2 separate regions of the Homo sapiens genome follow, and region 2 is linked to region 1. The links come from fine-mapping of genetic effects on gene expression. Tissue or cell type: whole blood. Region 1 holds a variant in brackets; the other region holds the start of a gene. All regions are shown on one strand. Distances are from middle to middle.

Region 1 (15,431 bases):
CCTCCTATAGGATCAACTCTGCCTATCATAACAGCTATAACTTCCAGACAAAAACACCTGAAGGCACTGGAGAGTGACAAAAGCAGGCAAATATTGGAGGGGAGTTGGCACTTGGAGGAAAGGAACTGCACTGGACAAGTTTCCCCAAGTTTTATCTTTTAGCCTTGCACCATGTAGGGCAGCTAAAACTCCAATGGAAAATTCACAGTTCTGCTGACTTTAAAAGCCAAAAAACAGTCTAGAGCAACCATCACCACTGCAAAGAAAATAAAGTAAGACACCATTAAAAAGAGAGAGAGAGAGAACCAGCACAGGGGAGCCCTAAAATCTGCATAAATCTGTCTAAATCTCTCGCTGATCCGTGAAACACACATGCACAGAGCAGGCTCCAAGTAGGCCAGCTAAGAGAACTGAACTGAAATGTACACTGCCACCTACTATGGGGGGACAGTTTTGCAGCTTGAATTCAGGTAAGTTAATCAATTGCCTGCTTTAGAAAAGAAAATCAATGCTTTTAAGACGGGCATAACAAAATTTATATATATAAATTATCATTTATCATTTGTAATATCCAGAATATAATCCAAAATTACTCCCTATAAGAAGAAATGGAAAAACCTGACCCATTCTCAAGAAAAAAAAAAAAAAGTAATCAAGGAGACTACCCTAAGATGACCCAGATTCTACAGTTTGCAGTCAAGGATTTTAAGGCAGTTATGGTAACTATGTTCAAATAACGAAAGAAAAATATGCTCAAAATAAAGGAAGATAGGAAATCTCAGTAGGGAAAGAAATCACACACAAAAATGTAAATTCTAGAACTAAAAACTACAATATCTAAATTATTTTTTCATATTACTAGATTGGCTTAACAGTAGAATAAAGAAGGAAAAGAAAAGAAAAGAGAGGGAAAGAGAAAGAAAGAGAAAAGAAAGAAAGAAAAGAGAGAGAGAAGAAAGAAAGAGGTCTGTGAACATAAAGACAGAACCAAGAAATTATTCAATTTGAAGAACAGAAAAAAAAGAGCCTCAAAGACCTACGGGAAAATACTAAAACATTTATATTTTAGAGTTCCAGAAGGAGACAATGAGGAAAAAAATATTTCAAGAAATAACGGCCAAAATTTTCCCAAAAAAAGACAAATTTACAGATTCAAGTTTCATGAACATCAAGCAGATTCAATACAAATAATGCCATACCTAAGTATATCATAATTGAAATAATGAAAAGCAAAAAAAAAAAAAAAAAAAAGAAAGAAAGAAAGGAAGAAAAAGAAAATCTTCACGGTAGCTAGAAAAAAACAACACATTGCATACAAGGAAATAATAATTTGAATGACTGTTGAATTATCATTTGGAGTAATGGAGGCCAGAAAACATGGAATCACTTTCTTTTTTTTTTTTTTCAGATGGAGTCTCACTCTGTCACCCAGGCTGGAATACAGTGGTGTGATCTCGGCTCACTGCAACCTGTGCGTCCTGGGTTCAAGCGATTCTCCCGCCTCAGCTGCCCCAGTAGCTGGGATTACAGGCATGCGCCACCACATCCAGCTAATTTTTGTATTTTCAGTAGAGTCAGGTTTTCACCATGTTGGCCAGGCTGGTCTTGAATTCCTGACCTCAGGTGATCCACCCACCTTGGCCTCTCAAAGTGCTGTGATTATAGGCATGAGCCACTGCCCTCGGTCCTTTTTTTTTCAGACAAGGTCCCGCTCTGTCGCCTAAGCTGAAGCGCAGCTCTCACTGCAGCCTCGATCTCCAGGGATCAAGCCATCCTCCCACCTCAGCCTCGCAAGTAGCTGGGACCAGGCACCTGCCACCATGTCCAGCTATTTTTTCAATTTTTTGTAGAGACAGGGTCTCACTAGGTTGCCCAAGATGGTCTCGAACTCCTGGGCTCAAGAGATCTTCCACTTCAGCCTCCCAAAGTGCTGAGATTACAGGCATGAGCCACCACGCCCAGTCAAGAACATTTTTTAAATTGCTGAAAGAATAACAATAACAACAATAAAAATCAACTCAAAATTCTATTTCCAACAAAACCATCTTTAAAGAATGGAAGAGAAGTCAAGACATTTTCAGATACAACTATTTAGAATGTGAAAGTTTGGCACTAAATGACTTAATTTCAGAAACACAGAACACTAATTTGTTTTTATTATATTAATCCATGATTATTTTATTTAAAAAAGAAGTTACTTAGCTGGGCGTGGTGGCTCACGCCTGTAATCCCAACACTTTGGGAGGCCAAGGCAGGCGGACTGCCTGAGCTCAGGAGTTTAAGACCAGCCTGGGCAACACGGTGAAACCCCGTCTCTACTAAAAATACAAAAGAAATTAGCCAGGTGTCGCAGTGTGCACCTGTAGTCCCAGCTACTCGGGAGGCTGAGGCAGGAGAACTGTTTGACTCCAAGAGGCAGAGGTTGCAGTGAGCCAAGATCGCACCACTGCACTCCAGCCAGGGCCACAGAGGGAGACTCCATTTATACAACAAAAAAAATTAAAATTAAAATAAAAAAGAAACATGCTCCTTTATAATTATTCTCACTTTGGTTACATCAAAAAAAAGTGCATCTCTGGCTGGGTGCAATGGCTCACACCTGTAATCCCAACACTCTGGGAAGCCAAGGTGGGAGGATCACTTGAAGCTGGGAGTTTTGAGACCAGCCTGGACAACACAGTGAGACCCCCATCTCTATGAAAAATAAGAAAATTAGCCAGATATGGTAGTACACACCTTTAGTCCTAGCTACTCAGAAGGCTTAAGCAGGAGGATCACTTGAGCCCAGGAGGTCAAGGATGTAGTGAGCTATGATCTTACCACTGCACTCTAGCCTGGATGACAAAGTGAGGCCCTGTCAAAAAAAAAAAAAAAAAAAAAAAAAGGTGCATCTCAAACTTTTTCATTGTCTAGCCCTCATTTTTAAAAAATATCTGCTAACCAAAGATAAATTCACTAACTGCCAGGGTCTTCCCTTGTTTATCAACTAAAGACAACTATGTTGGGACATAGGTGAAATGCTTCTGCAAGTCAAAATGCAGCAACCCACTTTCCTTAAGGGTATACACATTATACTGTAGTATAAACTAGATTCACAAAGAATCCCAAGAGTACAAGAAAACAATGAAATGTTCAAGAAATTAATATTATTCTTCCCCATCTATGCTTAAGGCAGCTATTTCTGTTCATCAAGTTCTCAGACCAATTTTAACTAGACACTCCACCAAGAGTTCAGTAGTAGAGTCAAAAATCCAATTTTCCCTTTGTAAAAAACCTAAATTCTGCAGAAAGTTTTTTCTTTTTAAGAGATTACATTCCAGGTGAAGTGTGAAAAAAGAGAGATTACAGTTTAAGTAAACAAAAGGAAAATAAAGAATTCAGAGGGTAAATGAGATATGTGGGGGACTTTTAAAACACAATTGCTTGACATGCACAGAAAATTGGCTGTAAGGATATATATCACAATATTGCTTAAAGCCAAATTTCAGACCTCTAAATGACTAAGAACAATGGATTAATGAAGATGACCATAAACAATGAAAAACTGCAATCATGAAAATGCTATACAATATTTTATTAATAGTATAAAATATTAGCTCTCAACAAACATGAATAAATTAATGAATCTTCCTCATTTGTTTTAATTTTGGATTATGTATTTTTAAATGTTCATTAAAATATATTACAAAATCAGCCGGGCGCTGTGGCTCACACCTGTAATCCCAGCACTTTGGGAGGCCAAGGTGGGTGGATCATGAGGTCAGGGGTTCAAGACCAGCCTGGCCAAGATGGTGAAACCCCGTCTCTACTAATAATACAAAAATTAGCTGGACACGGTGGCGGGCACCTGTAATTCCAGCTACTCAGGAGGCTGAGGCAGGAGAATCGCTTGAATCTGGGAGGCGGAGACTGCAGTGAGCTGAGATCGTGCCACTGCACTCTAGCCTGGGCGAGAGAGCAAGACTCCGTCTCTCTCTATATATATACATTACAAAATTAGTTTCCGCAAAAATTATATATTCAACACTGTATTTCAGCTGTGAAAGTTAATATTCAGAATTCTTGTCTATCTTCTTTGCTGGCCTAAAACTTCAAATATCTGAAGAGTATAACATAGCAGGATGTTTCTTACTGAAATATTTTACTTCGGATTTCAATGCACAGGTTACTCAAATATGATGAAGGAAAATTCTATAAATTTGACTGGCTTTAAAAAAAAAAGAAGAAGAAGAATGGTTCTGTGTCTGCTTTATTTTAGATACAACAAACAAAATCTTTCCTTAAACTTTCTTTCAGGAGCTCACCTGGGAAATAAAATATATTCTTTCGGGTCAAAGAATTCACTCCTGAAATATTTTTTCTTTCTTTGGCAAACTGCCTCCATTATCATGAAGAATTTGTATTGGCTCTATTTTTGTTATCTAATAGATTGCTTCTAATTATGAGAATTTAATTCTCTGGATCTGACGTTGGAATCTCAGGGCTCAACTTTCTGCCTAAGCCTAAGCTTAAGCCAAGCCTAAGGCTACCTTGGCATATAAAATAATACAAACTGGACTGAACATCACCTCCAAGAAATACACCCACTTGACAGATGAGGTAGCAGATCAATTAGGATACACATAGGACTTGAACCTGGCCTTCCAGTTACATAATATTCTAGTTCTCTAAACCAATCTGTTAGGTTTAGACCAATAGCTATATAGTGAGTAGCTAGTTACAAAACCCCAATTACATGTCTCAAGTTCAATAACTGAATACTACTTTTAACTCTGGTATTTTACTATGAGGTAATATAGAACACAATAACAGAAAATATTTAATATATTCTCTCTTACATGCTTATATTCCTATACTATGCACACCAATTTGCCAAAAAACACTAATAAATGCTTACTGAATTAATGAATTATCTCCTATATATAAAGGTTTGTGGTAGGGGGTAGATATAAAAGATGAAGAAAATAGTCCCTTAGTCTTTAGAAGAACATAATAATTTTTTAAATTTAAAATATAAAAAGAAGAAAAAAGAAAATAATCCCTTATCCTTGATCTCCTGGAATTTACATTCTAGCCTGGAACAAAAATGTAATTAAAGGTGATTCAGATGAGTGGCAGAATATAAAAATGCACAAACTGCCCCAAACAGTAGGAAAGAGTAGTTCTGCTAAGGGAACAACATGGTCAGAGAAGGATTCAGAACAGATTCCAACTTAGGCTTGGAGAACATTTAGTTTCATGAACTGATCCCTAAAACCCCGAAATATGTTAAGCTAAACTTTTTACACAATTAGTTGTATTCCAAAGTATTTATAGTAAGATGCGCCACAGATGTGTGTATATAGTTCTTCTCTTCAGAAGCATAGCACGTTCGTAAGGGCTTGAGTGTTTAGGAATGCTTGCAAAGGGCTCTAAGAAGGAACACAAGAGTTGGAAATAATTATTGTAAGAATGCTTTGGGGGACTTTTCAAAGTCCTTATTTGAGAAGGACATGTGCTGTGACCAGAAGCAGATTTATTCCATCATTCCGTTCTATTACAATCTCTCTAACCAGCCAATCAGAAGAAATCCTATTACCATTTAGCCATACTGAGATCTGCTTTAATGGTTAAAAATGGAATAAACCAAGAAAATACTAAGTAAAACACGTTTCTTACAACTTACAAAGATGAGTCCAGCCTCACAGTAAAAATATGTGACAAAGACTCAAGGATAAAACCAACTCAAAAAACAAAAAAAAAAGAAGAAGAATTGGTGTGAGGAAAATGACAAGGTCAAGAAATTAAAGAAGCTAATTTATTTATAACCTCCCCTCAAAGGGAGGCATAAGTGACTATGCTTCATATACAAAGCAACTTTTTAAAAATTTGTGTGCTTGTTTTACAGAAAGATTCCTTATAATTTTTTTATTCTTTTTTTAAAGAAGCAAAGGCAGGCAGACTATAAGACTAATCAGTTTGGTAAGTGAGCCAAAAGCAAGGGGGGAAAAAACAGATCCAAAAGCACTGGCTGATCTCATTAGCTTTGCTTAAGAAACTTTATAGATGTGACTTCACTCCTGGATTACACGTCTATATTTAGTTTATACCTAATATGGATAAAGTCTTGAACCAACAGTCATTTCCTCTCTCCACAAAAAGAAACTTCCTTGCCTTTTTTTTTTTTTTCTACCAACCTCTGAAGGGGGAGGAAGGGAGAAAGGGAGAGGGCAGAAAGAAAAGAACTCACAGAAAAATAATTAACAAATTAGTATATGATTTTTGTTAAACTTGAACCATTTAGACATTTCTCAATTGGAAAACAATCCTAAAATCAAAATATGTGAGGCCAAGCACAATGGCTCATGCCTGTAATGGGAGGCCAAAGTGGGAGGATAACTTGAGTCCAGGAGTTCAAGACCATCTTAGGCAACACAGTGAGACCTCATCTCCACAAAAAAATTAATTTAAAAAAAATTAGCTGGGCATGGTGGCACTGCAAGTCCCAGCTACTCAGGGAGCTAAAGGAGGAGGATCACTTGAGCCCAGGAGGTCAAGGTGGCAGTGACCTGTGATGACACCACTGCACTCCATCCTGGGCAACAGTGAAACTCTGCCTTAAAAAAAAAAAAGACATTCAAGTCAGGTTCCTTAACAAGTTTATAAATAAACCCTCTAAAGTGCTTTATAAAATACTAATTAACCAGGCCCCCAAAATGCAACGAGGTGAGGTAATGGAAATTTTAGTTGCCTTTCAAATTTTACCAAGAGAACTGAAAGCAACCAAAGTCATCTAATGAACCATCTAGGCTCACTAGTTGTTAGTATGTTTTAGAAATATCCTTAAATATTCTCAGAATTTTTTTTTCAGGGTGACTGAAAACAGAACATAAGAAATTCTGTTAGGAAAGCATTCAAGTTTCAAATAAATAGAGAAAAATAACATAAACAAAGTTATTGATTCAGGTTCTGAAATCCCAAAGACGTTAGTACAAATCACAGTACTGCTACTTACTGGCCCTGCAACCATACCCAAACAATGATCTCTCTAATTCTCATGTGTTAAACAGTATTGATAGCACCTATTTCAAAGTTTATATGAGGATTAAATTAGCTAACACATGCAAACGGCTGGCACACTGTGCCTGGCCCATAGTAAGCACCCAATGCTATCTATTACCTCATGACCATTATTCTGGCTTTAGTAGGGAAACAAAAACTTACTGATCATTTTTTATATATCTGTTTATTCTGTATAGTGATAAATTAAGTAGCTTCAGAAAACTTATAACATTATTATAAAATAAAGATTTTAAAGTCACTTCATGATTCTTACATTATGTTTTTTTGTTTGTTTTCTTTTGTTTTGAGACAGAGTCTCACTCTGCCACCCAGGCTGGAGTGGAGTGGTGCAATCAGAGTGGCTCACTACAGCCTCAATCTCCTGCTTCAGCCCCACTAGTAGCTGAGACCACAGGCATGTGCCACCATGCCCCGCTATTTTTAATTATCATTAAATAAATGATAGAGATTATATCTACCAATTACAGACATGCTAAAGTTTTCTTTCTTTTTCTTTTTTTTTTTTTTTTTGGTGAGGCAGAGTCTCACTCTGTCGCCCAGGCTGGAGTGCAGTGGCACAATCTCGGCTCACTGCAACCTCCACCTCCTGGGTTCAAGTGATTCTTCTGCCTTAGCCTCCCGAGTAGCTGGGACTACAGGCACATGCCACCATGCCTCCTAATTTTTGTATTATGAGTAGAGATGGGGTTTCACCATCTTGGCCAGGCTGGTCTCGAACTCCTGACTGACCGCCTCAGCCTCCCAAAGTACAGGGATTACAGGCGTGAGCCACCGCACCCGGCCGACATGTTAATGTTTTAAGCTTTATCATCTCATTGTGGTATAAGATGAAAAAGTCTAAAAACAATAATCTTAGATAGAGTCTAGAAAAATTAGAAGACTTCATTTTTACTCCTTAAAAATTACTAAATATAAAACCTGTAGATCTACACTATCTCAACTTCTTCCAGACAAATTAAATAAAAAGAGCTTAATCTCTTCTCTTTAAGAGAAATGTAGATGTGTTAAAAATATAAGCACGTCTACATTTCCTTTAAAGAAAGCATTAGATAAAGGCTAGTTAATATATGACCTGTTCAGTTGTAAAGGTGAATACCACAAAAATCAAGAAATAGTGAAATTTGGTAGCACAGGAAGCCAAAATCCATAATTCAAAAGTACTTTTACCCAGCACTTTGGGACGCCACCACAAGGGGATTACTTGAGTTCAGGAATTTGGGACCAGCCTGGGCAACATGGCAAGATCCCCATATCTTAAAAAAATGAAAATTTTGGCTGGGCGTGGTGGCTCATACCTGTAATCCCAACACTTTGGGAGGCCAAGGAGGGCGGATCACCTCATGTCAGGAGTCCGAGATCAGCCTGACCAACATGGAGAAATCCCGTCTCTACTAAAAATACAAAAATTAGCCAAGCGTGGTGGCAAGCGCCTGTAATCCCAGCTACCCGGGAGGCTGAGGCAGAACTGCTTGAACCTGGGAGGCAGAGGTTGTAGTTAGCCGAGATCATGCCACTGCACTCCAGCCTGGGCGACAGAGCGGAACTCCATGCCAAAAAAAA[T/A]ATATATATATATAATTTTAATTAAAAATTTTTAATTAAGAGTATTTGTACAGAACCAATAAGATCCTATGTCATAGATTATTCCTCTTTACTTTTGCACTTTCACATTAACAAAAAAGAGAGAGAGGAAAAAAAGAAAAACATTCTCACTACTAATGGACTCTCAAGCTTTAGCTACAAGTCCAGCAAGAGCTGCTGAGGCCGATGGACTAAGATGGCAGAGTCCAATCTGACTGTCCTTTAGTTACCTAGTAAGTGTCAACAGGATCAGGGTTCACTGAAGTTAATTCAAGAGCAAACTCAAGCTTAACCTTGAACTTTTTTTGTACTAACCCTGCTCTTTTGATAAAGAATGAAAAGTTCCCACCTGGTGGTAGTGGCAGTCTGGCAGATGCTTCTAATCCTGAAGGTTGAAACCACATATGGTATATTGAATATAATAAACTAACCATAGGCCAAGCCAACATGGTCTTAATTCTGCATTCCTAAAGGCAAAATAGTAAGCAAACAAGGCTTACTATGAGTTAGACTCTAAGGGCTTTTCTTATATTAACTCTTATAATCTTTACAAAAGCCCAAGATTACCCCAGTGGGGACACCAAGGCAACTAGTGAAGGGTAGAACTAGGATTCAAACACAGGCCACATGGCTCGGGAGTCCACACTCTTAGCCACTACATCAAGCTTGTCCAACCTGAGGTCCGTGGGCCACATGTGGCCCAGGACCACTTTGAATGAAGCCCAACACAAATCCATAAACTTTCTTAAAACATTATAAGGTTTTTTTGGTTTTTCTTTTCTTTTTCTTTTTTTTTTTTTTTTTTTTTTTTAGCTCATCAGCTATTGTTAGTGTATTTTTTGTGTGGCCCAAGGTAATTCTTCTTCCAGTGTGGCCCAGGGAAGCCAAAAGACTGGACACTGCATACTCTAACAGCATAATACTAAAGATCCAGTCTTCCATTATGATGACTCAATTGCCTACTTGAAATATTAATTCAAATGGTCTTCAATTCCAAAAGAAACTATTTCAGCACCTAGACAGAAATACTGGCTAGGCGTGGTGGCTCACACCTATAATCCCAGCACTTCAGGAGGGCAAGGTGGGCGGATCACTTCACGCCAGGAGTTCAAGACTAGCCTGGCCAACATAGCGAAACTATGTCTCTACTAAAAATACAAAAAAATTAGCCAGTTGCAGTGGCACATGTCTGTAGTCCCAGCTACTAGGGAAGCTGAGGCACAAGAATCACTTGAGCCCAGGAGACGGAGGTTGCAGTGAGCTGAGATTGTGCCACTGCACTCCAGCCTGGGTGACAGAGTGAGACCCCGTCTCAAAAAAAAAAAAAAAAAAAAAAAAAAAAAAAAAAAAAAAAAAAAAAAACCGTCTGGGCAACATAGCAAGACCTGATATCTAAAAAAAAGAAAAAAGGTGCAGTGGCTCATGCCTATATTCCTAGCACTTTGGGAGGCCAAGATAGGTGGATCATTTGAGGTCAGGATTTCAAAATCAGCCTCGCCAACATGGTGAAACCCTGTCTCTATTAAAAATATAGGCCGGGCGTGGTGCCTCACACCTGTAATCCCAGCACTTTGGGAGGCCAAGGTGGGTGGAACAGGAGGTCAAGAGATTGAGACCATCCTGGCCAACATGGTGTAACCCTGTCTCCACTAAAAATACAAAAATTAGCTGGGCGTGGTGGCACGTCTATAGTCCCAACTACTCAGGAAGCTGAGTCAGGAGAATAGCTGGAACTCGGGAGGTGGAGGCTGCTGCAGTGAGCTGAGATCGCGCCACTGCACTCCATCCTGGCAACAGAGCGAGACTCCATCTCAAAAGAAAAAAAACTAAAATTAAAATTTAAACAAATTTTAAAAATTAGCCGGGCATGATGGTGGGCGCCTGTAATCCCAGCTAGTTGGGAGGCTGAGGCAGGAGAATTGCTTGAACCCACAAGGTGGAGGTTGCAGTAAGCCAAGATGGCGTCACTGCTCTCCAGCCTAGGTCACAGAGCGAGACTCTGTCTCAAAAAAAAAAAAAAGAAAGAAAGAAAGAAGAAAAAGAAGGAAAGAAAAATACAAATGATACTTCAAGTAAACAATCATCCCTGGCTCTGATTTTGGGATCTATGATCTCAAATATTTCAAAAGATATAAAGAACTTTTTACATGCAATACGGAGGCAACGGTATAATCTAACACAGGGGTTCCTGCTGAGTCATCAGGACAATAGCTGCTCTCAACACTCCTAATCTTAATGGCTATCAAGCCACATGCTCAGGGTCAAAACACAGTTGCAGACTCTCCCTTAAAACTTTTTTACTTTGCAAGGAAAAACAAGTAAATCTGTTTATTTCAATCTAAAATATGAACTGAGCCCAGTCATTTGCATCACCCTCTCGACCTATTTCTCTGGCTTCTTGTTAGGCATTTGCTTTTTCCCAATCATGTGATCTTTTAGTTCTTCTTTTCCTCCCAACCTCCTCTGAAATTAAGCCTGTGCACGGAAAAAAATAAAAGCTTCTATATATTCCTTCAGCAAACATTTTATTGAGTAACAATCAAATGAGTTAATATTTCATAGATGTAGTCAACACAGTGCCTGGCACATAGAAAGCACTCCATAAATGTATATATTATTTCAATTAAATATGAAATGCTTTTCCATATATACTTCTTCTATCTCATGCATTTAAGAAATCCAACAGAAAACAGTCAATGGGAACAGTATCTATTCTAAATATAGGAAAACCAGATCTTCCTAGAAGTGAAAAGGCCTCCCAGGCAGTGAGTTACAATAACTCTAGTGGAAAATATTATCCCATCTAAGATAATTGTGTATAGTACGCCTTCCTTATAGCTCATTCATTACTGACACCTGAGGGTACATTTTCTTGCTTCCCAGAGCTTAGAGCAGTTCCTAGTAGGCACTTAGTAAAGACATGTTTAATGAAAGATTTTTTAAATTTGTAGTCTCTGTACTTACCAAAAAACCAACAACAACAACAACAACAAACCTGCAGTGAGAGAGAGTTAAAACACAAAGTAAATAAAAACAAATTTAGGGCTTTAGTGGTGAATCTCAAATTTGCTTGAAAGATTATTTTTAATAAAAGACAAAAGAATCAATTTTGGCAGGAATCCAGATGCCCTTCTGTGAAATGCCAGAAGATACCAGAGTATGAATTTTTTTTTTTTTCCCTTGAGATAGGGTCTTGCTCTGTCGCCCAGGGTGGAGTACAGTAGCACTATCTTGGCTCACTGCAAACTTCGCCTCCTGGGCTCAAGCAATCCTCCCACCTCAGCCTCCCAAGTAGCTGGGACCATAGGCGTGTGCCTCAATACACAGCTAATTTTTGCATTTTTTGTGGAGACAGGGTTTCACCATGTTGTCCAGGCTGGTCATGCAATCCACCTGCCTCGCCTCCCAAAGTGCTGGGATTATAAGTGTGAGCCTTGGCCGGACGTGGTGGCTCACACCTGTAATCCCAGCACTTCGGGAGGCCAAGGCAGGTGGATCACCTGAGGTTGGGAGTTCGAGACCACCCTGACCAACATGGAGAAACCCCGTCTCTACTAAAAATACAAAATTAGCCGGGTGTGGTGGCACATGCCTGTAATCCCAGCTACTCGAGAGGCTGAGGCAGGAGAATCGCTTGAACCCGGGAGGCGGAGGTTGCGGTGAGCCAGAGATTGTGCCATTGCACTCCAGCCTGGGCAACAACTACCCACCAAACAGTGCTGCTAAGCAGATGATCCTTTTCCAAAGCACAGCACTTATAAAGAATATTTTTAGCCAACTATAATTTACTAGCAGTAGGTTAAGGTCTATCAACTATACTTAAGTGCATTTACTCATTCAATAAGACTTACTGAATGCCTATTATGAGGCAGACAATCTACTAAATATCGTGGTGGACGCAAAGATGAATAAGACAAGGAATCTACTCTCCTGGAGCTTACTTTATTATAGCAAAGATAAGACATACATGCAAAACTATCAACAAAATAGATAACCGAAGAGTCATATAAGAGGCATGAAATATGAATCTTGAAGGATTAACAAAGGCAGACACATTTAAATGGAGATTTACAGGATTATGGAGTTTAAACAAATGGGAATGGAAGAGATGGGAAAGGTTGCTTCAGGGAAACAAGATAGCTCATATGGAAACAAAGAAGAGTTCAATTTAGCTGGACTGTAAGACCCAGGAGAAGTAGGAGATAAATTTGTCCAATTAATTAGAGCTAGACTATGAAGGTCATAGACTTGAATGCCAGACTATAGATTTGAACTTAATTCTTTTTTTTTTTTTTTTTTTTTGGAGACGGAGTCTCACTCTGTCATGGAGTGCAGTGGCATGATTTCGATTCACTGCAACCTCCACCTCCCAGGTTCAGGTGATTCTCCTGCCTCAGCCTCCCAAGTAGCTGGGACTACAAGCATGCGCCACAACGCCCGGCTAATTTTTGTATTTTTAGTAGAGACGGGGTTTCTCCATATTAGTCAGGCTGGTCTCGAACTCCCGACTTCAGATGATCTGCCCACCACAGCCTCCCAAAGTGCTGGGATTACAGGAGTGAGCCAGCATGCCCAGCCAATTCTTTCTTTAGTAGAGACCAACAAAATGGTTTTTGCACTTGCAGAGTGTGGGGGTCAGGAAAAGGAAGAACCTGTCTTAGCTGGTTCTTCAAAAAAACATAGTGTTGGACAGTCTGGCTTATACAAAGATGAAGAACAAAATTTCTTCCTCACAGAGTTTACTTGGCCTCAAGTAAAGAAGTAGGAGGGAAGGTTGTATGAAAATTCATACGAAGAAGCAATACATACCACTGAGGGGGACCTAGTGGAATAGGTGGCCATTTGGGAGATTCCTTGAAGGACATCCATTAAACCATGTCTCTCTTTAATTTTCCACTTCTTTCTCTAATAAATCAGCATTCAACCCAGCTCTTACAGCTCATACTTTTTAAAGCCTTCCCTTCATATGTATCCCCCTTTGCAGCTATCAACCTGTGTCTTCTACATAGCCAAGTTTCTTGTTAGAGTTGGCTTTACACACTGACTCCAGTCTCTTACTTCCTATTTCATTCTTCTACCCGCTGTATTATGACTTCCCACCACCACTACTCCACCAAAGCTGTTACTACGAAGGTTGCCAGTAACTTCCAGGGTGTTAAATCCAACAAACACTCAGCTTGATACAACTGGTCACTCCCTCCTTACAAACCTCTCCTAGCTTCTTCCTACCTCACTCTAGTAGTTTTCCTCTCACCACTCACTACTGTTCCCCCACAGTTCCTCTTTGTTCTCCTTGTCTAGCTTCTCCTCCATTACCCAACCCCTAAGTGTTTAGAGTTCCTCAGAACTTGCTTCTAGGCATTTTCCTCACTCTTTACTCATCCACACAATGATCTCATACACTTGTTTTTTTCTTTAGAGAGAGTCTCACTCCGTCATCAGGCAGTGCAGTGGCATGATCATATCTCACCGTAGCCTCTAACTCCTGGGTTCAAGTGAACCTTCCTGCCTCAGCCTCCTGAAGTAGCTAGGACTATAGGCATGTGACATCACGCCCAGCTGATTTTTTATTTTTATTTTTGCAGGGATGGGGTCTTGCTATGTTGCCCAGACTGGTCAAAAACTCCTGGCCTCAAGCAAATCTTCCACCTCAGCCTTCCATAGTGCTGGGATTATAGGTGTGAGCTACCACATCCAGCCTCATACACTTTAAATACCAAATATTCTATGTGTGTGTGTATGTCATATATACATATATGTATGTCATCAAGTCCCAAATATCTCTACCCTGCCTAGACTTCTTTCTGAACAGATCTGTAGGTCCAACTTTCTACCAACATCTCCACTTGACATCTCAGCCATCTTATACTCAACAAGTCAAAACTTGAACTCTGTCTGCTCCTCCTCCCTCTCCATGAACGGCAACTCTTGACCAGTGGCTCTAATTACAAACCCAAGTCATTTCTCACACTTTTCTCTCTCACATACCTCCTTAACATCCTCCTATTGACACCACTTCCAAAATCTACCTCAAATCCATTCTCTTCTCTCCATCACCTTATTAATCCAAGCCACCATCACCTTTCTTGATGGCAATGGCCTCCAAATAGTTGTCCTTATTGCCACTCTTGCCTCCCTTAAATTCATTTTCCACAGAGCCAGGCTACTCATATTAAGATGCAACTCTAATCCTGAAGCTCCCTCACTTAAACCCATCTGAGAACTGCCATTTCTACTAAGGACAAAATTCACATGACATACAAGGCCCTCCATGATGTGGCCCCTGTCAATCCCTCACTCTACTGCTCACTTTTGTTCTCTGTTTTCCAGTCACACCCTTAACTGATTATTTCCAGCCTTTACACATGCTGATTCCTTCAACCTAGAACGCTTTTCCCCTCATTCTAATTACTACTCATCCTACATGTCATTTTCTCAGAAAAGCTCTCACTGAGCCTCCATCTAAATTGGGTTTCCTGCCATTCTTTCTCAAGTTGCCCTGTTCTTTTCTTTGATATAATAACCTACTGTCCTTATTTATATGTTTCTTTAACATATGCCTCTCCAAGTAGATGATAGGTTCTATGAGGTATTAATAAATTTGAATTTAACACGTCAAAAAACTAAACTCCTGATCTCCTCCCCATCAGAACTAGCCCTTCCCACAGCCTTTTCCACCTCAGTTAATGACAACTCCATCATTCTGGCTGTTCAGAACAAAAATCTCAGAATCATCTTTAACTCCTCTTTCTCTCACATTCCACATCCAGTCCCTCAGGAAATTCTGTTGT
Region 2 (15,431 bases), 24 kb after region 1:
CTCCTGGACTGAGGGGTGAGAAATAAACTTCCATCATATTTGAACCACTGTTTGTGGGGGGATAACTTATTACAGCAACTTAAACTACCCTAACTAATATGCACAGATTAACAGTTTTAATCCCCTCAGTAACCATATAAAATTGCTATTATTATTATCCTGATATTAGAAGTTAGGAAACTGAAGCACTGAGAGCTTAAAAACTTGCCTGACATACTAGAAGCCAGATTCAAGTCAAGCAGTGTGGCTCCAGAGTCCAAGCACATTAGGAACCTCTGCCAAATATCTCAAAAGAAACAGACTCTTATGTGTTATGCCACCCTGCACCAGATTAACTTTTTACAAACACCACCCCAATCCCAGCAGCTTGGTGACTACTTGCTGACAGTGATCATCCCAGTTCACAGTGGCACAACAACAAGTTTAAATTCCAGCCCATAAAACTGAACTCCGCAAAGGGATTACTTTCTGTTTTTTGATTTGATTGTTTTTGAGACAGAGTCTTGCTCTTGTCCCTCAGGCTGGAGTGCAATGGCACAATCTCGGCTCACTGCAATCTCCGCTTCCCGGGTTCAAGTGATTCTCCTGCCTCAGACTCCCGAGTAGCCGGGATTACAGGCGCCCGCCACCACGACCGGCTAATTTTTGTATTTTTAGTAGAGACGGGGTTTCGCCATGTTGGCCAAGCTGGATGGAGAAACCCCATCTCTATTACTCTCATTTGTGGTTCAAGAGTTAATATTTAGTTTTACCCAAACAAAAATCTTGGTTCCCCAAATTCTGGACATAGCCAAGAAGAAACACTAGTAAATATATAAAAGACTGGCACGGTGGCTCACGCCTGTAATCCCAGCACTTTGGGAGGCCGAGCGGGTGGATCACTAGGTCAGGAGTTCAAGACCAGCCTGGCCAACATAGTGAAACCCCGTCTCTACTACAAATACAAATTAGCTCCTCATCTCTACTAAAAATACAAAAAATTAGCTGGCCATGGTGGCGGGTGCCTGTAACCCCAGCTACTCGGGAGTCTGCGGCAGGAGAATCGCTTGAACTCGGGAGACAGAGGTTGCAGTGAGCCAAGATCGTGCCACTGCACTCCAGCCCGGGTAACAGTGCAAGACTCCATCTCAAAAAAAAAAAAAAAAAAAAGACTGGAAGTATTAAATGGAGAAAAAAAAGAGGTGAGTACATAAAATTACACTGGGTTTGGAGACTGGAGGCTAGAGAAATCAGGATGAAGAACCATGCTTTGATGCTCCAACCATCGGGATCTCAGTAAGTGGTTTCTAATTCCAAAGCATGGTAGAGACATACATTGACAACAAAATGCTCAACAACAGAATTCTCTGAAAGAAGGGCACAATCTCATTTCAAACATTTGGCATCCTCTTAAGTTGCAGGCACTCTGAACCATATGCACACCCTATCCTCAAGGAATTTACTGTCTATCTAGTAGGGGAGATCTGCCTATAAATATATATTCATACAAAATTATACACAACTAGCATTTATTTGCTTACTGTGTACTAGACATTGTTCTAAGATTGTTGCATACTACATATATTAATTTATCCCATAGGACTGTTCTACTAATATCCCAACTGTGCAGATGTGGCACAGACAGGTTTAAGTGATGTATCCTGGGATACACAATTAGTAACTGGACATATTGGATTAGAAACTCAGGCAGTAGGCCAGGCTCGGTGGCTCACGCCTGTAATCCCAGCACTTTTGGAGGCCAAGGCAGGCTGATCACCTGAGGTCAGGAGTTCGAGACAAGCCTGACCAACATGGAGAAACCTTGTCTCTACTAAAAATACAAAATTAGCCAGGTGTGGTGGTGCACACCTGTAGTCCCAGCCACTCGGGAGGCTGAGGGGTAACAAGAGCGAAACTCCGTCTTAAAAAAAAAAAAAAAAAGAAAGAAAGAAAGAAAGAAAGAAACCCAGATTACAAGGGACCTTATGCCCTTGCTAAAAGGTCTCAAATATACCGTATCTGTTGGTGGTTCCCAGCTGGAAATATATACACCTACCAGGCTCCTGAGTGGGGTAGAGAGCATCTCCACTGTTGAGGATGATTGCCATTATAAGCCTTTGTTGTTTTCCTCCCGAGACAGGGTCTTGTTCTGTCACCCAGATTGGAGTGCAGGTACATGATCATAAGCTCACTGCAGCCTCGAACTCCTGGGCTCAAACAATCCTCCCACCCGCAGCCTCTAGGGCTAGGGCTGCAGGCGTGGGCCACCAGGCCCAGCTTAGTTACTTACTTATTTATTTAGAGATAGGGTCTCACCCAAGCTGGAGTGCAGTGGCACGATCACGGCTCACAGCCAACCTCTGCCTCCCAGGCTAAAGGAATCCTCCCACCTCAGCTGGGACCACAGGCATGTATCACCACACCCAGCTAATTTTTTATATTTTTTGTAGAGATGGGGTTTTGCTACGTTGCCCAGGCTGGTCTCGAACTCCTAGGCTCAAGAGATCCGCCTGCCTCAGCCTCCCAAAGTACTGGGATTACAGGCGTGAGCCACTGTGCCTGGCAATTTTTTTAATAGTTTTTGTAGAGACAGGGTCTCGCCATGTTGCCCAGGCTGGTCTAGAACTCCTGCGCTCAAAAGATTCATCCTCCTTGGCCTCCTACAGTGCTAGGATTACAGGCGTGAGCCACCACAGCCCAGCTGCCTTTTTTACTTTTGAGAGGGCATCCTATCTATCCTCCAGATGTTGAGGGTAAAACAAAACAAAAACAAACCAAAAAAACCATCCTGCTGTTATATAGATGACAGGGAGTTAATGGGCTCACAGGCAGACAACTCCAAAAACTACTCACAAGGAAGGAAATGCAGCTGTGAGTTCAGTCATACTATTTGAGAAGGTGCTCATCTCTCTCTCTTAAATGTGAAGCTCAGTGCTAGCTAGACAGGTAGGCTCAAAGCCCCATTACATCTCTTGGCCTTTCCCCTAGCGCCACCACCAAATTTCTAATTTCCATACATGCTATGTGCTTCAACTGTAAATAGTTTTCTTTTACAAACTCAGATACCTCTTGGCAGGTTAACACTGTTCAACATACCACTCTGGACAACCACAGCCTCTGCACCCTCTCTACTTTCTTTTTTTTTTTTTTAATTTTTATTTTTTGAGATGGAGTCTTGCTCTGTCACCCAGGCTGGGGTGCAGTGGCACTATCTCGGCTCACTGCAACCACCGCCTCCCAGGTTCAAGCAATTCTCCTGCCTCAGTCTCCCGAGTAGCTGGGATTACAGCCATGCACCACTATGCGTGGCTAATTTTTGTATTTTTAGTAGAAATGCGGTTTCGCCATGTTGCCCAGGCTGGTCTCAACATCAAGTGATCCACCCCCCTCCGCCTCCCAAAAGGCTGGGATTACAGGAGTGTGCCACCACACCTGGTCCACTGCTTTCAAAATAACTATATTTACAAGGGTATTTCCCCCATTTGCATTTCCCACACGTAGGTTTTGAGAAGAGATCAAGAATGCCCTTTACCACATTTTACCTGTCCTTTTTTCCCCTTTCAAACAAACTGGTCTAGGGGCCAAGCACAGAGGCTCAAGCCTGTAATCCCAGCACTTTGGGAGGCCAAGGCAGGCAGATCACTTAAGGTCAGGAGTTTGAGACCAGCCTGGCCAACATGGTAAAACCCAGTCTCTTCTAAAATACAAAAATCAGCCAGGCGTAGTGGTGCATGCGCTCCTCGGAAGGCAAAGGCAGAAGAATCACTTCAACCTGGGAGGCAGAGGGTGCAGTGAGCCGAGATCGCGCCACTGCACTCCAGCAGCCAGGGTGACAGAGCGAGACACCATCTCATTAAAAAAAAAAAAAAAAAAAAAAACAAAAAACCTGATCTGTATCAGTGCAAAGTTTGCCTATGTTGAATCACTGGGTAGCAGAAAACATTTCTTATTTCACAAATGAGACAAACAAGGCTTAAAGAGTGAAAACAAACTGCCTAGGGTCACCCAACCAAGGAGTAAAGAACTGTGACTTGAACCCTGATTCTCTGCCACCAAGCCCAATGAGAAAGGCTTACAACTAGTGGTAGGAAGGATGATTTTCAGTGGTTCTCAACACAAATATGAAAAACAGAAAGGGGATGCAAGTGACTCAAGTTTGGAAAACTGCACACGCCCCTCTGCTATTCTAACTGAAAGATGAAATTAATAGTAAGCAGGGCATTAATCACTGATCTCTTCCTAATTCAGATACTTAATTTTTCTTGTCTTCTTTGATTAGCTCCTCCAATAGAATAATAGAATACTGAATAGAGCCATAACTGATAATAGCTTTATCTTTTTTTTTTTTTTTTTGAGACGAAGTCTCACTCTGTCGCCCAGGCTGGAGTGCAGTGACTTGATCTTGGCTCACTCCAACCTTTGCCTCCCCGGTTCAAGCGATTCTCATGCCTCAGCCTCCCGAATAGCTGGGCCCACCACCATGCCTGGCTAATTTTTCTATTTTTAGTAGAGACAGGGTTTCACCATGTTGGCCAGGCTGGTCTCGAACTCCTGGCCTCAAGTGATCTCCCCATCTCGGCATCCCAAAATGCTACAGGTGTGAGTCACCTCACCCGGCCCGATAGTAGCTTATTCTAAGTTTAATACTGTTCTAAAGTTTCACCGTTAAGTATCATGTTTTACAGATTATTCATGGATGCACTTTTTTTGAGTTTATGGAAATTCCTTCCTATTCCTCACTCAGTAAAAATTTTTTTTAACTCATCTCTGGCCCACTTGTTTCCCTTCTCCATGCTGTTTTCCACCCACCACCCTTCCTTTCTTTCTTTTTTTTTTTTTTTTTTGAGATGGAGTCTTACTCTGTTGCCCAGGCTGGAGTACAGTGGCGCAATCTCCGCACACCACAACCTCTGCCTCCCGGGTTCAAGCAATTCTCCTGCCTCAGCCTCCCGAGTAGCTGGGACTACAGGCACGCGCCACCACGCCCAGCTAATTTTTGTATTTTTAGTAGAGATGGGGTTTCACCATGTTGGCCAGGATGGTCTCGATCTCCTGACCTCGTGATCTGCCCACCTCAGCCTCCCAAAGTGCTGGGATTACAGGCGTGAGCCACCGCGCCCGGCCTCCTTCCTTTCTTGTATTTCAGGTTCCTTCCTACATTCTACGCATCTCAAAGTACTATATCTGCCACTCAAAGTAACCGAAACGCTTTGATATTTTGGGGGTTCTATACCTGTCTGCTGTTTCAGTTCCCTGGACCAAAAAAAAAAAAAAAAAAAAAATCGAAAATTGACAATTGAAAGAAAATCCTAAGGCAAACACTGTTCCAGTCATTACTGAAGACTGCAGAGGTAAATGCAGATTATTTCTTCTCTCCATCTCTTTTGTTTGAGACAGGGTCTTGCTCTGTCGCCCAGGCTGGAATGCAGTGGTGCGACGTGGCTCACTGCAGCCTCGACCTCCCGGGCTCAAGCAGTTCTCCCACCGCAGCCTCCAGAGTAGTACAGGCGCGTAACATCGCTCCCAGCTAATTTTTGAATTTTTTTGTAGAGACAGGGTTTCGCCATCTTGTTCAGGCTGGACTCAAGTAATCCTCCCACCTCGGCCTCCGAAAGTGCTGCGATTACAGGCATGAGCCACCGCGCCCAGCCCTTCTCTATCTCTTAAACACATCCTGAAATGTCCTTTCTTTAAAGTAAAAACTCGGGGAAAAAAAAGAACCCAATAGTTCTAGATGACCATTTACTTTCCGGTATGTTGCCTAGCTCTGAATGAGCCTGGCTTTTTAAGTGGCTGGAAGAAGCTCAAAGTGTTTTTTTTAAGTTTTGAGGGAAGGAGCTGGATCCAGATGTTTATAACTTCGACTCTCTCCTTTGCTAAAATAAAAAGTATTAAAGAGAAAAGCAAAGGAAGAGGGGTAGTATGTGTAAGCAAATAAATTCCACACATGAAAGCTGAAGACACAAGGGAAAACCAACCCTTTAAAGCCCAAGCAAGTTAAGAATTCTCTCCCTCAATTTCTTTCAAAACAAAAGGGCACACACAATCCTTCCCGAAGCAGCAACGCCGGGGGGAGAAGCCAAAATGTTGCATCATACAGAACACTCCGCGCTTGAGAAACGAGAAAGCCAGTAAATGCCCAAGACAGAAAAACACAAGTTGGGAATCTCGGTCTTTTCCGAAGGTCCAAGAGCACCTGCTCTTTGGTAAATTTGTTTAAGATTGCATCGAAAATTAAAGTTTCCGTTTCAGACCAGTGGGGAGCAAATGCTTTTTCAAAAACGCGTTCAAAGAAGTTCGTTTGAAAGCTCATCGGGCGGCGGGCCGCAGTTCGGGCTCCGGGCGGCGGACCGGAGCGCTGGGGAGCGGGTGGGGCCGGGCCCCGGCGCCCGGGCGGGGGGTGGTGACAGGACCCGCGCGCGCCCGGCGCTGGGGCCCCGGGGCAGGCAAGTCCCGCCCGTGGGCTCTTCCCGACCCACCCGGGCGCGGGACGCTGGTCTGGCGTCCGCCGATGCCTACGCGCTGGAGACGGTGGCCGCCGCCCGGGTCCCCAACCCGGACCCCTCGACGGGCCCTCGGAGGCGGGAAGGCGCGGGCGGCCCCCAGACAATGGGCCGGGGGCGCGGGTGCCCGCAGCGGGACGGGTGCTGGCGCCGAGCGGGGGCGCCTCAGGAGAGCCCCGGGACGCCGCTCCCCGCAGCCGGGAGGGAGCCGGGGGATCTGCCGGGCGGGACCGCGAGGCGAGCGCTCACCTTGACGAAGAGCTCGATGAGGGGCTCTTTGTCCTCCTCCTTCAGCCCATTCAGCGGCATCGACAACGCCATGGCCGGCTCGGCTGCGCTCCGCGAACGGCGAGGGCTGCTGCTGCTGCTGCTGCTTCTGCTCCGGGACTGCTCCGGCTGCCGGTTCCCGCCGTGCTGCTCGCTGGACTGTCCGGCGTCGAGCTGGCCACGGCTTCAGCTCCTCAGCACCGCCCCACGCCCCCCGCGCCACTCTGAGCCAGCCGCAGCCCGAGCCGCTTCAAACGGCTGGGAGGGGCGCCGGGGGCGGGGCCTCGGGCTGTAGGCAGGGCCAAGGCGCGGCGCCTCGGGACTCTCCGGGGAAAATAAGGCGGCAGGAGCACGGGGGCGTGGCCTCGAGCGGGGAAGGCGGAGGGACCGCTCCGGAGCCGAAGAAAGGACCTCTGCGGCGCCCCACAGCTGGTAGGGGGCGTGGCCTTGGTGGGCGGTACAAAGCTCAGGCTCTGGCGGGCGGGACCCGGGTACGCCTCTCTAGGGGACTGGTGCGGGGGGGAAAGGAGGGGAGGAATTCCCCAGGGGCCCGAGCCTGACACTGCCTCCCGCCGCAGCGCCTGCGCGTCCTCCGCAGCTGCTGCTGTTGCTGTGCCAGGTGACCTCATGCCTCGGCCGCCCTGGGGAAGCTAGGAGGCGCCTCCTACCCACTCCCCCGCTGCAGCACCCCAGGACTCATCGCCCTTTCCCGCAGCGGCTACCTCCCCAAGTCCCTCTATTACGCGGAGTTGCCTTTTCCAAGACAACTTACTGGAAAGTTTTCATCGCCTGGGGAACACCTTTTTCTTCTGCCTCTGACTTCGTTTTTCCCTTTGACGCTCCTGATCGTTTCGATCTTGGCAGCCAGCATATTCACAAATATATATATATATATATATATTTTTTTTTTTTTTTTTTTTGAGACGGAGTCTGGCTCTATCGCCTAGGCTGGAGTGCAGTGGCGCGATCTCGGCTCACTGCAAACTCTGCCCCGGGTTCACGCCATTCTCCTGCCTCAGCCTCCCAAGTAGCTGGGACTACAGGCACCCGCCACCGCGCCCGGCTAATTTTTGTATTTTTAGTAGAGACGGGGTTTCACCGTGTTAGTCAGGATGGTCTCGATCTCCTGACCTCGTGATCCGCCCGCCTCGGCCTCCCAAAGTGCTGGGATTACAGGCGTGAGCCACCGCGCCGGGCGCATATTCACAAATATTTATGAAACCTTACTGTGTTTCAGGCTCTGAGCTAGCCCTTGGAGAGTAACAACTCCCAAAGCTCAAGATCTTGAACTGCAATCTCAGTGCCTGCAGGCCACTAAGGACTTCCAAGTCGTTGTCCATCTTGTTCCCCACTGCCCACACCCATTTCTTCCCCCCGGCTCACCTGTCAAATTTGAGTGTGCATCAGAATCACCTAGGTGCTACACGCAGCCCCGCTTTTTGTGTTTCCCAGATCCTCTGGGAAAAAGAGAAATCCACATCTTAGCAAGCACCAGGACAATTCTGAAGTAGGTGGTCCGCAAACCAGTTAAACTGCCCTGGGATTTAAGCCCCCGAGGGCAAGAGCTGTGCTTGCCTTGAGATTGTAGGCACCTGGTCCTAGTTTGCTGCTGTTGAGTGCCTGGGGCAAGTTTCACCTCCTCTGGAAACAATTACTTGTGCCCTTTTCTGACTTTCCATAATACTTGACTCACAGCTACTCCTCCCAACTTCCCAGGTTGGGATAAATAGTGAGTTCCAGGAGGCCCAGACATGGGAGGTTTGTCTCCATATCCTCGGTGCCTAGCACATACCAGAATGTTTGAACAAATTGTACGTAGGCATGAAAATACAGTGAAACTTGCAATTTCTTCCTCTGCCAGCCCAAAGTAAGTTGCTCAAATTTTCTCACAGAGGCTCTGTGAAAGAGCCAGTGTATCCCAGTGGTCAGGAACACGTGCTCTGTAGTCTGACTGTTTAAGTTCAAATCTGACAAGGCAGTGTCCTTAAAACCCCTAAGCCTCAGTTTCATTATCTAGAAGTGGGTGGGGCTAATTACTGATTCTTGCCTTACCATATGTGCTGCTCCGTCAGTATGGCTGTTAACTGCATTGAGACTTATTCTGTCCCTACCACCCCTGCAGGCTAGAATGTGGCATCATATTCTACTCTCTCTATGCCCGGCTAGTTCGTTGAAAATAAATAAATAAATTCCAGGAGGCTCCCCTTAGATGGGGGCTTGAACCATGAAAATCCTGAAGTGACTGACTAGACTCTGGACTGAACCGTGTTAATTTTTCATAGAATCATGAACTGAAGCAAAGTTTCCTTCCAGAATCCACCCTCTCTGCCCTACCAAAAAGGAACCAAATGGTGAATCAGTTCAAAGCAGATCTAAGCCAAAAAACAATTCAGCAGAAACTCAATGTACCTGAGAATTGATCAAATTGAGGCCGGGCACAGTGGCTCATGCCTGTAATCCCAACACGTTGGGAGACCGAGGCGAGTGGATCACCTGAGGTCAGGAGTTCGAGACCAGCCTGGCCAGCATGGCGAAACCCCATCTTTACTAAAAATACAAAAATTAGCCGGGTGTGGTGGCACATGCCTGTAATCCTAGCTACTCGGGAGGCTGAGGCAGGAGAATCGCTTGAACCGGGGAGGCAAAGGTGGCTGTGAGCCGAGATCACGCCACTGTACTCCAGCCTGGGCGACAGAGCGAAATCCATCTCAAAAAAAAAGAATTTGAGTTAGAGGCAGCAAATATTCCCGGTGGTGACTTGCCCTTCACAGGCTCCAACTGGCCTCACAGCACCAGGGTATGGAAGGAGGAACAGACCAGGGCCCTTTAGGCTTCATTGACTAAACAGAGATCTTAGCTAGGAGGAAGCCAGGGGCATTCTCCACAGAGCCCTGAGGTGGTGATGATCTCCTGGGCTCCTCCTACCCAACAGGAAGCCCCCCAGGAAGAGGCTCAGACCCAGAGCCTGTGCTTAGACGTAGTCTCAGTCACACCTACAGTTTCCCAAGTTCCGCCCTCATATGGCTCCCATGGATGGGCAGTCAGTCCTGGGAGTGGGTGAAAGGGAAAGAGGATGTTTATGCAGGGGAGGCCCCCTAACCACATAGCAGTCAAGTCTCCTCTTCGAATTTTGAATTGCATGCCTGCTTTACATTCTTTACTCAGGCTTGTTTTTATAGCACACAGAAATCTTTAAGATGGGTGGAGACATGTTGTCTCCTCCCACACACACCCCTCTGACCTCATCTCCTACCATTCTCCCCTGTGCTCTCCACCCCAGCTTCACTGGCCTCCTTTCTAGTCCTTGGATATGCGAAGCACACTGTGGCCTCAGGGCCTTTGCATTTGCTCTTCCCCCTCTCTGGAACATTCTTCCCCCAGAATTTCTGCAACTCCCACTCCCTTACTTCCTTTGGCTCTTTGCTCAAATGTCATCTTCTCAGAGCGCTCTCCCCAAATACCACCCTATGCAACGTTGCAAGTTGCTATCTTTCACTCCACCCTCCACTTTATCTCTCTTCATAACACTTACAACCCTCTGATACATATCTACCTATTTATCTGCTTATTGTCTGTCTTCTCCCACTAGAACATAAATGCCATAAGGGCAGGGATTTTTTGTTTGGTTTTGTTTATGGCTATATTCCTGGCTCAGAGGACAGCTCATGGTACACAATAAAAATTTATGGAGTGGGCCGGGCGCAGTGGCTCACGCCTATAATCCCAGGATTTTGGGAGGCCAAGGCGGATGGATCACCTGAGGTCGGGAGTTCGAGACCAGCCTGACCAACATGGAGAAACCCCGTCTCCACTAAAAATACAAAAAATTAGCCAGGCATGGTGGTGCATGCCTGCAATCCCAGCTACTTGGGAGGCTGAGGCAGGAGAATCGCTTGAACCTGGGAGGCAGAGGTTGCAGTAAGCCGAGATTGCGCCATTGCACTCCAGCCTGGACAACAAGAGCGAAACTCTGTCTCAAAAAAAAAAAAAAATAGCTTATGGAGTGAGTGACTGTACCATGTTTATCCTATGGTTTCATGTACCCCTGACATGACATTTGGATTGTCACGCTCTTCCAGTCTGGGAAGCCAGGTGGTTTGTGTTTATGACTGCCCCTACACAGGGGGTCAGGTTTTCCTCCAGTAAGCCTCCCTTGATGACACTTTCCTCCTCCCACTTCTAACTCTGTGGTGCTGCTCGCTGACTGTCTCAGCCCAAAGTTCTGCAATTTCAGCAGCAGAATGAGCTGCTATGCACATGGACTCTGGGGCCAGACTGCCTGGGTTCCAATCCTGCTTCTGTTATTTACTAACTCAGGATACTTACTTAACCTCTCTGTGCTTCATTTTCTCATCAGTAAAAATGGATCTAAATTAGTACCATTTTCTCGTCTGTAAACATGGATCTAAAATTAGTACCTATTAATATTTAATAGGATCATTGATAAATTAGTCTATGTTAAGAGCTTGGATTGTAAGTGCTCTGTAGACACTAGCTGTTGGTATTATTCCCATCTGTCCATATTCTTGACCGGTCACTGAGCTCTCACACTGCATGCCAGACACCTAGCTGGGTGCTTTCATATCCAATCATATTTATTCATCATGGTCTTGCAAGGCTTGATTTATTTATTTATTTATTTATATTTATTTTTATTTTTTTTGAGACGGAGTCTCACTCTGTCGCCCAGGTTGAAGTGTAGTGGCACAATCTCATCTCACTGCAACCTCCACCTCCCAGGTTCAAGTGATTCTCATGTCCCAGCCTCTCAAGTAGCTGGGATTACAGGCATGTGCCACCACACCTGGCTAATTTTTGTACTTTTAGTAGAGACGGGGTTTTGCCATGTTGGCCAGACTGGTCTCAAACTCCTGACCTTAATTAAGTGATCCACCCGCCTCGGCCTCCCAAAGTGCTGGGATTACAGGCATGAGCCACCATCCCCAGCATTGCAAGGCATAATTTTCATTGTCCCCATTTTACAAATAAGGAAACTGAGGGCCAGGCACGGTGGCTCAAGCCTGTAATCCCAGCACTTAGGGAGGCCGAGGCAGGTGGATCACTTGAGGCCAGGAGCTCGAGACCAGACTGGCCAACATGGTGAAACCCCATTTCTACTAAAAATACAAAAAGTAGCTGGGCTTGGTGGCAGGCACCTGTAATTCCAGCTGCTCGGGAGGCTGAGGCAGGAGAATCGCTTGAACCCAGGAGGCAGAGGTTGCAGTGAGCCGAGATCGTGCCAGTGTACTCCAGCCTGGGTGACAACAGCGAAACTCTGTCTCAAAAAAAAAAAAGATTTCCTCATGCTCCCCAGAATGGCATGCAACTTATTTTTTATTTATTTTTTTAATAGGAGAAAAGTCATACAAATTGATTTCACATACATACACAGGAGCCTTCAGAATGAAGACCCACCTCCCCCATGAATTACGGAAACTTATATATCATCTTGAGGTTACAGAAAGAATGGGAGCTTGCATCCTGGTAAAACAGGCTATGTGAAGGGGGAGAAGAATTCTGTTTAGGGGCAATAAGGGGTTGGGAAGGAGAATGACTGGATGGGGGAGCAGGGATTAACTTGTAAATAGTTTTCTTTAGAATTTAAATGATCCTTGGAGACAGTCATTATCCTCATAAAAAGACCTGTTCAAGTGTGGTCACGTCTTAGTCTTCTTTTCTATATCACAAGATGTAAGTTTTAGCTTGCAGGGCCACAGGTCAGGAACCCTCTAAAGGACCTGCATAAACAAGGCACAAGGCCAGTCTTTCTAAGGGACGTTTATCAGTTCTATAAAGTCTATTTCAATTCCTCAAAGCAGTTTGCTCATATTTTAAAATATCCCATTCTGGTCAAAACCTTGATAAAATAACTGGTGTTTCCAATTGTGTCCCCTTTGCAGGCAGGTGAGTTTCCTGGGTTCTCTTCACTACGGCTTCCAGAACAGAACAGTAGCTTTGATCACCCTGATCACTGCACCATACTGTGGAGGCCGTAGGCTCCCGGTCCCCTAAAAGTTCACTGAAAAGTTACTGACATGAGGCAGATTGGTTAATAGGAGAAAAGGCATACAAATTTATTTAATATATATACACAGAAGCCTTCAGAATGAAGACCCTGACATGCCACTTAAATCTAATAAATGGGGCCGGGTGCGGTGGCTCACGCCTGTAATCCCAGAACTTTGGGAGGCCGAGATGCGCGAATCACTTGAGGTCAGGAATTTAAGACCAGCCTGGCCAACATGGTGAAACCCATCATTACTAAAAAAAAAAAAAAAAATACAAAAAATCAGTCAAGTGTGGTGATGTACGCCTATAATCCCAGCTACTCAGGAGGCTGAGGCAGGAATTGCTTGAACCTGGGAGGTGGAGGTTGCAGCGAGCTGAGATTGTGCCACTGCACTCCAATGTGGGTGACAGAGCAAGACTCTGTCTCAAAATAAATAAATAAATAAAAATTAATTAATTAATTAATTTTTAAAAAGCTAATAAATGGTTTATTTCTAGAATTTTCCATTTAATATCTTTGGATTGTGGGTAACTGAAACTGCAGAAATCAAAACTGTGAATATAGAGGATACTACTGTATAACAGAACCTACTTCAGGAACTCATTGTGAGGATTATATGAGGTAATCCATTTAAAACATTTAATAATCAGCATTTAATAAGTGCTAGCTATTACAGGCTGAGCATCCCTACTCCAAAAACCCCAAATCCAAAATGCTTCACAATCTGAAACTTTTTGAGTGCCAACATGACACTACAAGTGGAAAATTCCACAAAAAAGTGCTGAATACAAGCACTTTGGGAGGCCAAGGCGGGCGGATCACGAGGTCAGGAGATCGAGACCATCCTGGCTAACACGGTGGAACCCTGTCTCTACTAAAATACAAAAAAGTAGCCGGGTGTGGTGGCGGGTGCCTGTAGTCCCAGCTACTCAGGAGGCTGAGGCAGGAGAACGGCGTGAACCTGGGAGGCGAAGCTTGCAGTGAGCCGAGATGGCGCCACTGCACTCCAGCCTGGGCAACAGAGTGAGACTCCGTCTCAAAAAAAAAAAAAAGGTACTGAATACAAACTTTGTTTCATGTACAAAATTATTTGAAATGTATAAAATTACCTTCAGGCTATGTGAATAAGGTATATATGAAACATTAATAAATTTCGTGTTTAGACTTGGGTCCCATCCCTAAGATATCTCATTATGTATACTCAAATACTCCAAAATTCAAAATAATCCAAAATTTGATATCTGAAACACTTTTGGTCCCAAGCATTTATTTTTTTAATTTTTAAGTTTTAATTTTTGTGGGGACACAGTGGGTATATATATATATATATTTATGGAGGTCCCAAGCATTTAAATAAAGGATACTTGCCTGGTTATGGTGACTCACACCTATAATCCCAGCACTTTGGAAGGCTGTGGCAGAAGGATCACTTGAGCCTTTTTTTGTGGAGATGAGGTCCTACTATTTTGCCCTGGCTTGGTCTTGAGTTTGAGACCAACATAGTGGGCAACAACTGGGCAACATAGTGGGACCTCATCTCTCTAAAAAACCCCCAAAATTAGCCAGGCATGGTGGTGCACACCTATGGTTCCAGCTATTCAGGAGACTGAGGTGGGAGGATCACTTGAGCCCAGGAGGTCAAGGCTGCAGTGAGCCGTGATCACACCACTGCACTCCAGTTCTGGGTGATTGAGTGACACCCTGTCTCAAAAAAAATAAATAAATAAAAATAGGGCCAGGCAGGGTGGCTCGCCCTTATAATCCTAGCACTTTGGGACGCCAAGGCAGGATGATTGCTCGAGCCCAGGAGTTTGAGACCAGCCTGGGGAACACAGCGAGACCCCAGTCTTTGTTAAATTAAAAAAAAAAATTTAAGAAAAAAAGATAGATAAGGGATACTCAACCTGTATCACTAGTCATATCAATGTCCTCTTCCTTGGTATACTGTGAGATTCTTGGAGGCAAGGAACCCTGCCATATACGTCTTTACTTGAGTAAAATATTTCACTTCCTTTCTGTGTGATGTTTGAGCAAGTTATGCTCTCTACACTTCATTTCCACATGTAAAGTGATGCTAATTATACTTCATGGTGTTGTTATGGAAAGTAAATGAGTTAATAAATGTAAAGCACATAACAGTGCTTGGCATAGAGTAGATGTTCAATAAATGTTATTATTTTACTATTATATGCATTTATTTCTGGAAGAATACACAAAAAATTTTTAAGTGTTTACTTCCAGGGAGGAGAACTGGGGAACTGAGTCACTGCTGACTTATATACTGTTTTGGTTCCCATTTTGTAACTTTTGTCCTAGGGGTATGTGTTATCTATCAACAAATTGGTTTAAACAAGGGAAAACAGGAGCCGGGCCTGTAATTCCAGCACTTTGGGAGGCTGAGGCAGGTGGATCGCCTGAGGTCAGGAGTTCGAAACCAGCCTGGCCAACGTAGTGAGACCCCATCTCTACTAAAAATACAAAAAGTCAGCTAAGTGTGGTGGCGGGCGCCTGTAATCCCAGCTACTAGTGAGGCTGAAGCAGGAGGGTCACTTGAACCCGGGAGGCGGAGGTTGCAGTAAGCTGAGATTGCACCATTGTACTCCGGCCTGGGCAACAAGAGCGAAACTCTGTCCAAAAAAAAAAAAAAAAAGGGGAAAACAGGGCCAGGCATG

What was found.
Region 2: it holds the start of CLIC4, and the variant in region 1 is fine-mapped to the expression of CLIC4 in whole blood (INTERVAL, PIP 0.97).

The regions. Positions count from the first base shown.
Region 1 is chr1:24,761,045-24,776,475 of GRCh38, reverse strand. All of the region lies in intron 1 of CLIC4 (chloride intracellular channel 4), which reads right to left. Among named protein-coding and RNA genes, the nearest start is that of CLIC4, 23 kb to the right of the region's middle. The variant T/A (reference allele first, on the strand shown) is at 8,623.
Region 2 is chr1:24,736,926-24,752,356 of GRCh38, reverse strand. CLIC4 (chloride intracellular channel 4) reads right to left here and starts at 6,910. Exons shown (of 6, transcript NM_013943.3): 1 at 6,732-6,910. The coding sequence starts at 6,803. RefSeq lists silencers at 2,798-2,877, 6,339-6,498, 6,599-7,308 and enhancers at 6,390-6,995, 6,996-7,601, 8,814-9,419.